Regions from separate parts of the Homo sapiens genome. Here region 2 is linked to region 1. The links come from fine-mapping of genetic effects on gene expression. Tissue or cell type: tibial nerve. Region 1 holds a variant in brackets; the other region holds the start of a gene. All regions are shown on one strand. Distances are between the middles of the regions.

Evidence for each region. PIP is the estimated chance that this variant, and not a neighbour inherited with it, causes the effect.
Region 2: IGFBP2 starts here. The variant in region 1 is fine-mapped to the expression of IGFBP2 in tibial nerve (GTEx, PIP 0.92).

The regions. Positions count from the first base shown.
Region 1 is chr2:216,546,649-216,551,952 of GRCh38, reverse strand. No RefSeq gene overlaps it. Among named protein-coding and RNA genes, the nearest start is that of RPL37A, 50 kb to the right of the region's middle. The variant T/C (reference allele first, on the strand shown) is at 3,008.
Region 2 is chr2:216,631,150-216,635,149 of GRCh38, reverse strand. It overlaps IGFBP2 (insulin like growth factor binding protein 2), which reads right to left and starts at 1,730. Exons shown (of 4, transcript NM_000597.3): 1 at 1,185-1,730. The coding sequence starts at 1,626.

The DNA of each region.
Region 1 (5,304 bases):
CTCAGCTTCCCGAGTTGCTGGAACCACAGACTACTCAGACTGGCCCGAACATGCCCCTGCAGGCAGCAAGGACCTGTGTCCCTCACCCTTCTCCACCAGCAAGCAGAATTCACCCTCCCAATGTTCCTGGTTTACAATCTTTTAACAAATATTTATAGAATACCAACTATGTATCTAGGACTGTTATAGACACTTGCAATAAAGAGAAAAACAAACAAAAGCCCTGCCCCTGTGAAACTTAAGTGCTATGTTTTTGCACACCACGCCTGGCTAATTTTTTGTATTTTTGGTAGAGATGGGGTTTACCATGTTGCCCAGGCTGGTCTTGAACTTCTGGGCTCATGTGATTCTCCCACCTCGGCCTCCCAAAGTGCTGGGATTATAGGTGTGAGCCACGGTGCCTGGCCTATTCCTCTTTATTTCCTTTTTCCTTTATATATTCTCCTCATCCATGCTTGAGTGTTCTATTTCTCTCTCGTCTAATGTAATCTAATACAATGGAATATTTTTCTTTGGGATCATGGGGGAGGTTCTCACGTCTGGGAGCCTGGCCAAGGTATATGTATTTACAACATCTGAGTTCCATTTCAAAAGTTTGTTTCATGACCCTGTTCCTTTGATTACAATCTAATCCTATGTATGGGCAGGAACATTTTCTGCTGCAGCACCAGCCTTGAAAGAGACATATTACCAGCTATCACAACCTCCTCCCTGGTCACCCAGTTCAAAGACAACACACACACCCCTAGGCCTCTTCCTACCAAGCAAAATTTTTAGATGAACCACGCTTGCAGAAAAATAAATAAGACATTTTCAAAGAGACATCAATCTTAAAACTTGCTCTTAGCTTCTTTAAAAAAGAAAAAAGAGTGTTAGAGTAGATCGGTCTGAGATTTAAGCTTTCAGGTTGTGATATAAAAAAACATGTATGAGTTCAGTGCTAGCAATGATATTAAACATATATCAGCTTTGTGTGTCTAATTTTTTTTCTGATTCAATGCAATTTATGAGCAGCCTACACCCCACTTTGGAATAGAGGCATGGAATAGTGAAAGATGCTTCACCATAAGCAGCCCTACTTTCAAATCCTAACTCAGCGACTTAGTGGCTGTGTATGCAAAACTATTTCTCCAAGCTTCAGTTTCCTCATCTATAAAATAGAGACAAAAAATATCCAACTCTTAGGGTTGAAAGAATTCAATGAGATAAAGTCTTAAAGCTCTCAACAAATGTTAATTTCTCCCATACGCACATCCTTGCATTGTGTGCAGTTAAGAGAGGCTGCAAACAGGCATTACCAGACCCTTACCATCAAAAAGATCACAACCTGTGGAAAGATAACATTTAGCAGTATATAATAAACTGCAGAATTGGTGCTAGGTTGGAAATAGTCAACACGGAAACAGTCAGGGCATAAAGGAGATAGCCCCTATCAGCAGGGCTTCTGGGAAGCCTATCAGGAAGGCTGCACAGAGATGGCCGTGAAGGGTGGGGAGGCTGGCACTTCAGGCTCAGGTGTGGAGGGAGAAATAGATTCCCATGCTTGTGGGAGCATAGGAAGATCAGAAAAGACTGACCCTAAAAGGTGGGGATGATGTGACAGGGAAGGGCCAGCGTCATGGCGTGGGGACACTGGAAAGCCAGGCAGAGGCAGGTGGCCATGATTTCATTTGAAATGGTATTCATTGTCAGCTTTGACACCGTAAGATCAGAGCTTTATGGAATGGAATGCTAAAGGCCTCCCCGCTCCCCAGACAAGAGGCAACCAGTGGGAGAAGGAGGAGCCAGTGGGAGGGGCATCCACAAAAGAGGGAGGGTGGTGGAGTCCACCCACTGCTCAGATGCAGCGGATAAAAGGGGAGAGGAATCACAGATGCCTCTTGGTTTGCGTCAGGAAAGCAAGCAAAATATGCCAACAACACTGGAGGCCCAGAAGTTAGAAAAGGGAGTTGCCTGAAGAAGAAAGAGCCATTTGGTCCATTTTGGACAAGTTTATGTGAGATGCCTGAACAAGAGCGCTGCGTGTGTGTGTCCTCTGGAGAGTGTGTACCCCTTAGCGGGAGGGCCTGCTTCCCCTTCTATTCCATTATACCCACTCCTCTCACTGTATTCCAGATTCATGTTTCTTAAAAACTCAGCTGAATTCATAGCTAGGTGTGCCTGGAAGGAGGAGATTATGCAAGCTGTCCCGAGGAAGCCAGAGGTGTGTTCGACCCCTGTGTTTCCTGAGTGTTAGTTGGATTCCTGAAGCCATCAGTTAGTGGTTCCCGAATGTTGTGTTCAGGTTCTCCCACCTTTTTTGAAGGAGAATAAGAGTTTCTAGAAAGGATCTGACTCCAAACCAGGCAAAGTCTCATGTCTTAGATGGAGTCAATACCTTAGAGAATATTAAAATTATTGGGCCCAAAGGTAACTTGGAGATATTCTTTAGATGCTCTTAAGAATACTGTTCTTGGATTATGTATATTCCAAATATCTTCTGTGATTCGTCTCTTCACTTTCTTTAAGGAACTCTTTGATAAATCGTCATAGGTACCATGGATGGGTCCTCCTGCGCATGCATTCTGACTCCAAGGAAGCCCACCCTTCTCTGCTGATGCAGTTCAGCATGGCTTTGGCTGGCAAAGTTGTGTTGGCTTCTGGGCACCAGAATAGCAAGCAGGCCCCGAGGCAGCCAACATCAGGAATCGAGAAAGGGAGTTCCAGATGGAAGCGGCAGAGTGTGAAGATGCTTGACTGCAGGCCAGCCCCATGGCGGGGGGAGAGGTGTGGGGGTTTGGAATGCCCTAAAAGGTTCCAGACCAGTGGCAAAGCTGCTAGAAAAGGCTGAGCCCAGACCCAAAGGAAAGCCTTGTGTCCAACCCCTATGTTAAGATATGGGGAATTACAGAACCCCCAGGACTGAAATCACCCTCCCTCTAAGAACATCATGTCCACTGTTCAGCCGTCTGCCAAGATTACCAAAGCAGAATTGTTTTTAACAGAGATGGTAATCCACCACAACTCC[T/C]GTGGGTCATTCATTCAGACCCCCTGCCTTCCACTGCCTTCTATGCAATGTTAAGAAGGGAAAGAAGTCCAACTTCACATTTTTCTGGACAATTTGAAGAAACAAACACAGAGGAAATGGTTTACATCAATGAAATGGATAAAAGCTGGAGAACAGAAAGAACTTCTCAGGAGTATGAGAAAGTGTGAGAGAACAATCACAGTCTGAACAGTGAGTCTCGGTATTCTTTTGTGAAAGAGCCAACTACACTAGGCCTCAGTTTCCCCACCTATAAAATGGAAAGACCATTCGCTGCTTTGCCTTACTTGACATTGAAAAGAGTAAAGCCCATTTGAGATGTTAAAGGCCTTGGCATGTTGAAAGGAAGTGTCTGCAGGGATCTATGAACTGAGAGGTTATCCAGCCATGGAGATGGGAAAATGAGGACTGTTCACCCTAGAACATCTTCCAGGGGGACCTAATGAGTAATGGGGCCAGAGTCATTTGTAATGTGCCACCGGACTGTGCTCATCCTCTTGGCTGCCAACACTCCTGCTTTCAGATGATAGCCCACTTTTTTCCATCAAAGGAACCACGACTTGACTACTCCCAAGGCTTGGTGATCCCAAGCATTCCAAGACCACCTGCTACAAGCCTCCATCAGAGCTATCAAGCAGCAACTGCAGACTCCTCCTGGAGGCAGGAAACAGTCACAGGCCCAAAGGGAGGTGAAGAGAGATCACTGAGGTGCTAGCTTAAAGCCTGGGAAGTGTGAAGCACCATCTCAACATGTAGGTTTCAACTGCAGTCTCAGTGAGCCCTGGAATCCCACTGGGGTGTCTTGGTCAGAGATTGGAGGAGGCCAGAACTGGTTCCGCATCTCCCACCCCTGCCTCAACCACAGCATCTCTGATGTTATTGGTCTTAAATATTGGGATGTTTTGTTTGCAAAAAGAGTTCTATGACTCTAAAAATGTTTATGAAACACTTGTCTGCACTAGTAAATTTTATTTTTAAAAAAAAGCATACAGAAGAAAAACTAATTGCACTTAAGACTTTAGAATCATATATCACATCCAACAGAAGAATTCTACTAGGAAAAATGCCCAAGCTGTTGCCCCCAAACTAACGTAACATGCTCATAAATGGCATCTGCCTTTATATTCTTGCTATTTCTTTATTTAGCTTTCCCCATTCTCTCAATTCCTAAGTACTAGAACAGGTAGAGATGCTGCTATTTAGGAAAATATTCCCTGAGTATCCTCCTCTAGGCCACTGCAGACCCTTCTCGCAGCTCTGTTTTGTGCATCTTCCATACTTAACACTTAGTACTGCAGGTAGATCTAGACTATGAACACCTTGAGGACAGGGATCATGTCTAATTCCATCAATCTATGTGGCCCATGTTTAAGCACAGTGCCAGTAACTCAGGAGGAGTTTGAGAGACCTGAATGAATGAATGAATGAATGCATGAATGAAGACACTTCTGCACAAATGTATAATTTCCTGGTTTCTCTTCTGTAAGTAAGTTAACATCTTCTATGTTTTGTTTTGTTTTTTCTTCTAGGTCACAGAGGGCTAATGCTGTAAATTCTCTCTCAGGGGAAAGCTGGGCAGACACACTTGGGAACATTTAAAAAACTAGGTTGGCATTGGAGAGGAAACAGCCAATATATTTAGCCACCCATGGCATGCCAAGGCCTTATCGAGACAGAAATAGGCACTGTAGGAGGAATCTCAATTAAATATTTTTCTAAGCAGTCAGCTCTGGGCTTTGCCTGAACATGGATAGAGAGCTGGGGTGAAGCACAGGACAGAAAGCCAAGAAGATCTCAGTGGGGCTTCTGAATCATCCTGGGGCTTAACTGCTAGCAATGTAAAACTGGTGACCCCAGGGGGCAGGGGTGCTGGCCTACCTTCCATGTCCAAGGAGCAGGACAACCTCCCTGCAGGCACTTTCCAGAATCCCACACATTTGGGGGACCCATCCTCTCCGCCATACCTACTCTTAAGTGGCAGCAAGTATCCGGAATATTCTTCCTATGAGCTTTACCCAACTGTTTCCAATAGTCAACACTCCCTAAGAATCGGTCTTATCCAGAAAGTACTCCTGGAATGACTTGAGGAGAAACACAATGACGCTTTGGGCATAGAATTCCACCCTGCAGCCTAGTTATCTTTTCTTTGTTAAAATATGCAGCACTTCAATCCAGAGACATAGGGACAACTGCCCTGAATTGACTGGGGTATGAGGATGGGCTCCAGTGCTGGGCAGGGTGAGAGTGGGAGGGGGTACCTGGCGGGGGTGCAGACAGTC
Region 2 (4,000 bases), 84 kb before region 1:
CAATAGCCGACCAGGAGAAGGGAGGCGGGTTGGTGCATGGGGTGGGGGGCTTACGAAGACCTCAGAAGCTAAAAAGCAAGCATTCTTCTTTTCACTTTTTCTTTTTAAGTTTGAGAAACTTAAGACTCACTTGCTTTTTCAACAACAGCAGCAGGCAGTGGACACATTTCACCACTGTCTCCAAGAGGAAAGAAAATAATTACAGCTTCCTCCCGACCACTGGGGCAGGAGGCTTTCGTAATTAAAAAAAAAAAAAAGTAACCTCCTTAGAGCCTGGTTGTGTCCCTCAAATAACTTTTTGGGAGGGATGAGGGCCCCTGAACAAAGAATATCGGGTCCTCATTCTATCCTACAGGAAAGGGTCCCTCAATTTAAGATAGGGGCGGGGGTGGGGGGTGGCAACGCATCTCTCCTGCCTTTCGATCTGGGGCCCAGATGCGAAACCGCACAGCCTGGCTGCCCCCGTCCAGGGAATGCAGCCGGCGATCGGGCTTAAGTTACATTGATTCAGCTGCTAGGAGACCCCTCGCCTACCAAATGCCTCCCTTTTATTTTTCCATTCAACGTGGTAGCAAGAGCCCTGCTCGTTCCCTATGGAGAAATAGTAGTGGTGGTTTTCATTTTTCTCCTAAGCGACTCATCCTACAAAGTACCAAGTCCTTTCTTTCCAACTCACAACCCCAGTAGAAGGAAGGGCCCCTTGGGACGCCGGTGCCTCCTCCTAGCTCCCTCTCCTCTTCCAAGGTTCCTGGTGTCACTGGCACCCCGCAGCCTCCGCCTCCCAGCAGCGATCCCACCAGGACCCTTGGGTCCTCAAGCAGTGCCCCAAATAAGATTCGAGTTCCTACTCCCATGGATCTGACCACCGGCCCCCTTCTCAGCAAATCCCTCCTCCAGAATAGAAGTCTGGGTCCGTTCCACGCGGGTAAAACTATGGCAGCAGGGATGCCTTTCCTCTCCCCATTCATCCCCACCAAATGAGTCGCCAGGGCTCTTCCACTTGCTCTAACTCCAGTTCCCCTCCCCGGGCCTGACTTCCGCGTCCCGCTAGCAACAGTCCCCCTTGATTTGGTCCAAGGTCTCGGCTCTGCCGCCCCTAAAACCGTCCGTAAGGTCCAGCCGCCCGTCGGGCTTCTCCGCTGCCCTCCAAGTTTCTCCCAACTACTTGTTCCAGACCGCGTTACCTGCAACCTGCTCCGGGCTGGCGCCATACTCGGCGTCCCGGCGCTTCTCACAAGTGCCCTCGCCCATGACCAGCGCCTGCAGGGGCAGCTCGGAGCCCGGGTGGGGATAGCAGCGCAGCCCCTGGCCGCAGCGCGGGGTGTAGACGCCGCACGCCTCGCCCTCCAGCCGGGCGCACACCGAGCAGCAGCCGCAGCCCGGCTCCCGGACGAGCTCCGCGCATGGCATGCGGGCGCCTCCGGCCACTGCGGCCACCGCGGCGGGCGGCGCAACCGGCGGGGGCCCGCAGGCGGCCAGGCGCTCGGGTGTGCAGGGCGGGCAGCGGAACAGCACCTCCGCGCGCGCCCCGCCGCCGCCGCCACTCGCGCCCAGTAGCAGCAGCAGCAGCGGCAGCAGCGGCGGCGGCGGCAGCGGCAGCGCGGGGCAGCCCACTCTCGGCAGCATGCTGGCGGTCGGCAGCGCGGCGCGGCGGGCGAGCGAGCGAGCGGGCGGGCGGGCAGGTGGCACGGCCCTGCGAGCGCGGGAGCCGCCTCCTCCGCTTCTTCCTCCTCCCTCGCCGCCGCAGCCGGGTCCTAAAGGGCCGGCTTCTCCCCGCCCCCTGCCTTCTCCCCTCCCCCTTTTGGAGACCACTCCCTTCCCCCCCGACACTCCCTCGCGCCGGCAAGTGAGTGCGCGCACGCCCGCTCGCCCACCTCCGCGTTGGCTGCGGGCTCTGGGGGTTCCCTGCTCTTCCCGGGCCCCGTCCCTCCGCACTCTTCTGGCCTGACTATGACTCCTGAAGGAGAATACGGATAACTCGCGGGTTTGGGTAGGACCGGCGTGGCGGTGGAGAAGAGCGCGTGCTTTTGTCTGCTCTCAGTTCAGTTCGCGAGGACTTCGTTTGCGCGCTTCCCCTGTGGCCGGCACTGGGCTAACCGCTGGGGAACACAAAAGACATAAGGCTCCGTTTTGACCTTCAAGTAGATTTCAGTCGGCTCATACCAACTCCTTCCATCCTGGGGTATCACCCACCACTGACACGTGGCTTGGAACAATGACTTCTTGTTGGGTGGGTCCTGCGGAGTTTCAGACCCGTCTAGACCAAGCTAGACCCAAACAGCCCCGAATGGTCTTAGTGACTATTGCAGTTTTCCAAACCTGGGAGCTCGTGACTACAACCTATGAGAACCCTAAGTGCCCCGCAAAACCTGCCCCCTTCGTCTGCAGACCCCCTCCCTTCTCCGCCCGCTAAAATAATCCCTTAGCACCCTGGGCCCCCACCTACAAATCTCGAGGCACTTGTTGCAGGACAGATCCCAGAACACTCAGTTGCAGGGGTCTTGGAGAGGTCAGATCAGCTCTCCAGGTGTGACAGACCCGCTCTGGGGTAAGGCCATTTATGGCTGTCTTCAATAATGCAGATGGACAAGCATGACCTCCTTTCATTGTTCTGTTTGATTTACTGAGTCATCTACCCAAGCTGCCCCCAACCCCCATCATTCCAGGCTGGACTCAGCCATAATCAACCATCTCCTGGGGTGTGACCCTAACAAAGACCCCTGTCAGAGAGATTCCTTGGGTGACAGGTGGACCATTAAGCTGCCTCCACCGCAGGTTTCATCTCCCTATACCTCAGCGCCCCTCTTCCCCCCAGACCCCTCCACTCTGGCTCTTTCTGACTTCAAGGCTCAGAGCCTGTTTGATTCAGTTCAACAGCTAGTTAACCCAATGGCCACCTGGCTCTGAAGGTGACCTAGATGCCTCCAGGAAGGCAAGTACCTGGTCTTAAGACGCCAAGCTGGGAAGAGTTATCGGGAAAGACTTTGGTAAGATAAAAAATAAATAAATAAATGTTTATCAGAGGCTTTGAAGAAAAGAAATATTTTGGTAGAGAGGTGATGTGGTGGTTGAGGAAAGGGGAGTTTCTTGGGTGAGTCGGAGCTGAAATTGAAGCTTGTAATTCTACCAGAGGAAATGGGCGGTTAGCAAGGGCACAGGCAGAGGGACCACCTGAAGCAAAAACACAGAAATGGGGCCGGGCGCGGTGGCTCACACCTGTAATTCCAGCACTTTGGGAGGCCGAGGCAGGTGGATCACCTGAGATCAGGAGTTCAAGACCAGCCTGGCCAACCGTGGCCAACATGGTGAAATCCCATCTCTACTAAAAATACAAAAAATAGCCAGGCACGGTGATGCACGCCTGTAGTCCCAGCAACTTGGGAGGCTGAGGCAGGAGAATCGCTTGAACCCAGGAGGTGGAAGTTGCAGTGAGCCAAGATCGCACCACTGCACTCCAGCCTGGGTGACAGAGTAAGAATCAGTCTCAAAACACACACACACACACACACACACACACACAGAGAGAGAGAGAGAGAGAGAGAGAGAGAGAGAGAGAGAGAGAAATGGGAAAATGAGTTTGGGGATCAGAAAGTCCACTTCAGCCAGAGTGCAGGATGCTTGCAGAGAGCAGCAGGGGAGGCAGGAAATCCAGTTGACTGTGGCGCTTTGGCTTAATATGCTGGGCAGTAAGGATACAGCATCCATGTTTGAGCAGAGGAAGAGATGGACAGAGCTGGACTTCTGGAAATCATTAGCACTATGTAGAGTGCCGATCTGAAAAAAAAGTAAAAAAAAAAAAAAATCGTTAGCACTATGTAGGGTGCCGATCTGAAAAAAAAAAAAAAAAGAAGTAAAAAGCACTATGTACAGTGCCAATCTAAAAAAAATAAAAATAAGACACAGGAAGGATCATGGTCATTCCACCTTCATTCTCCCTGGTGTCTCCTGCCTGCTTTGTAACGTGTTTCTGTTGGTCCCACCCACTGAGCTCCTACAGAGT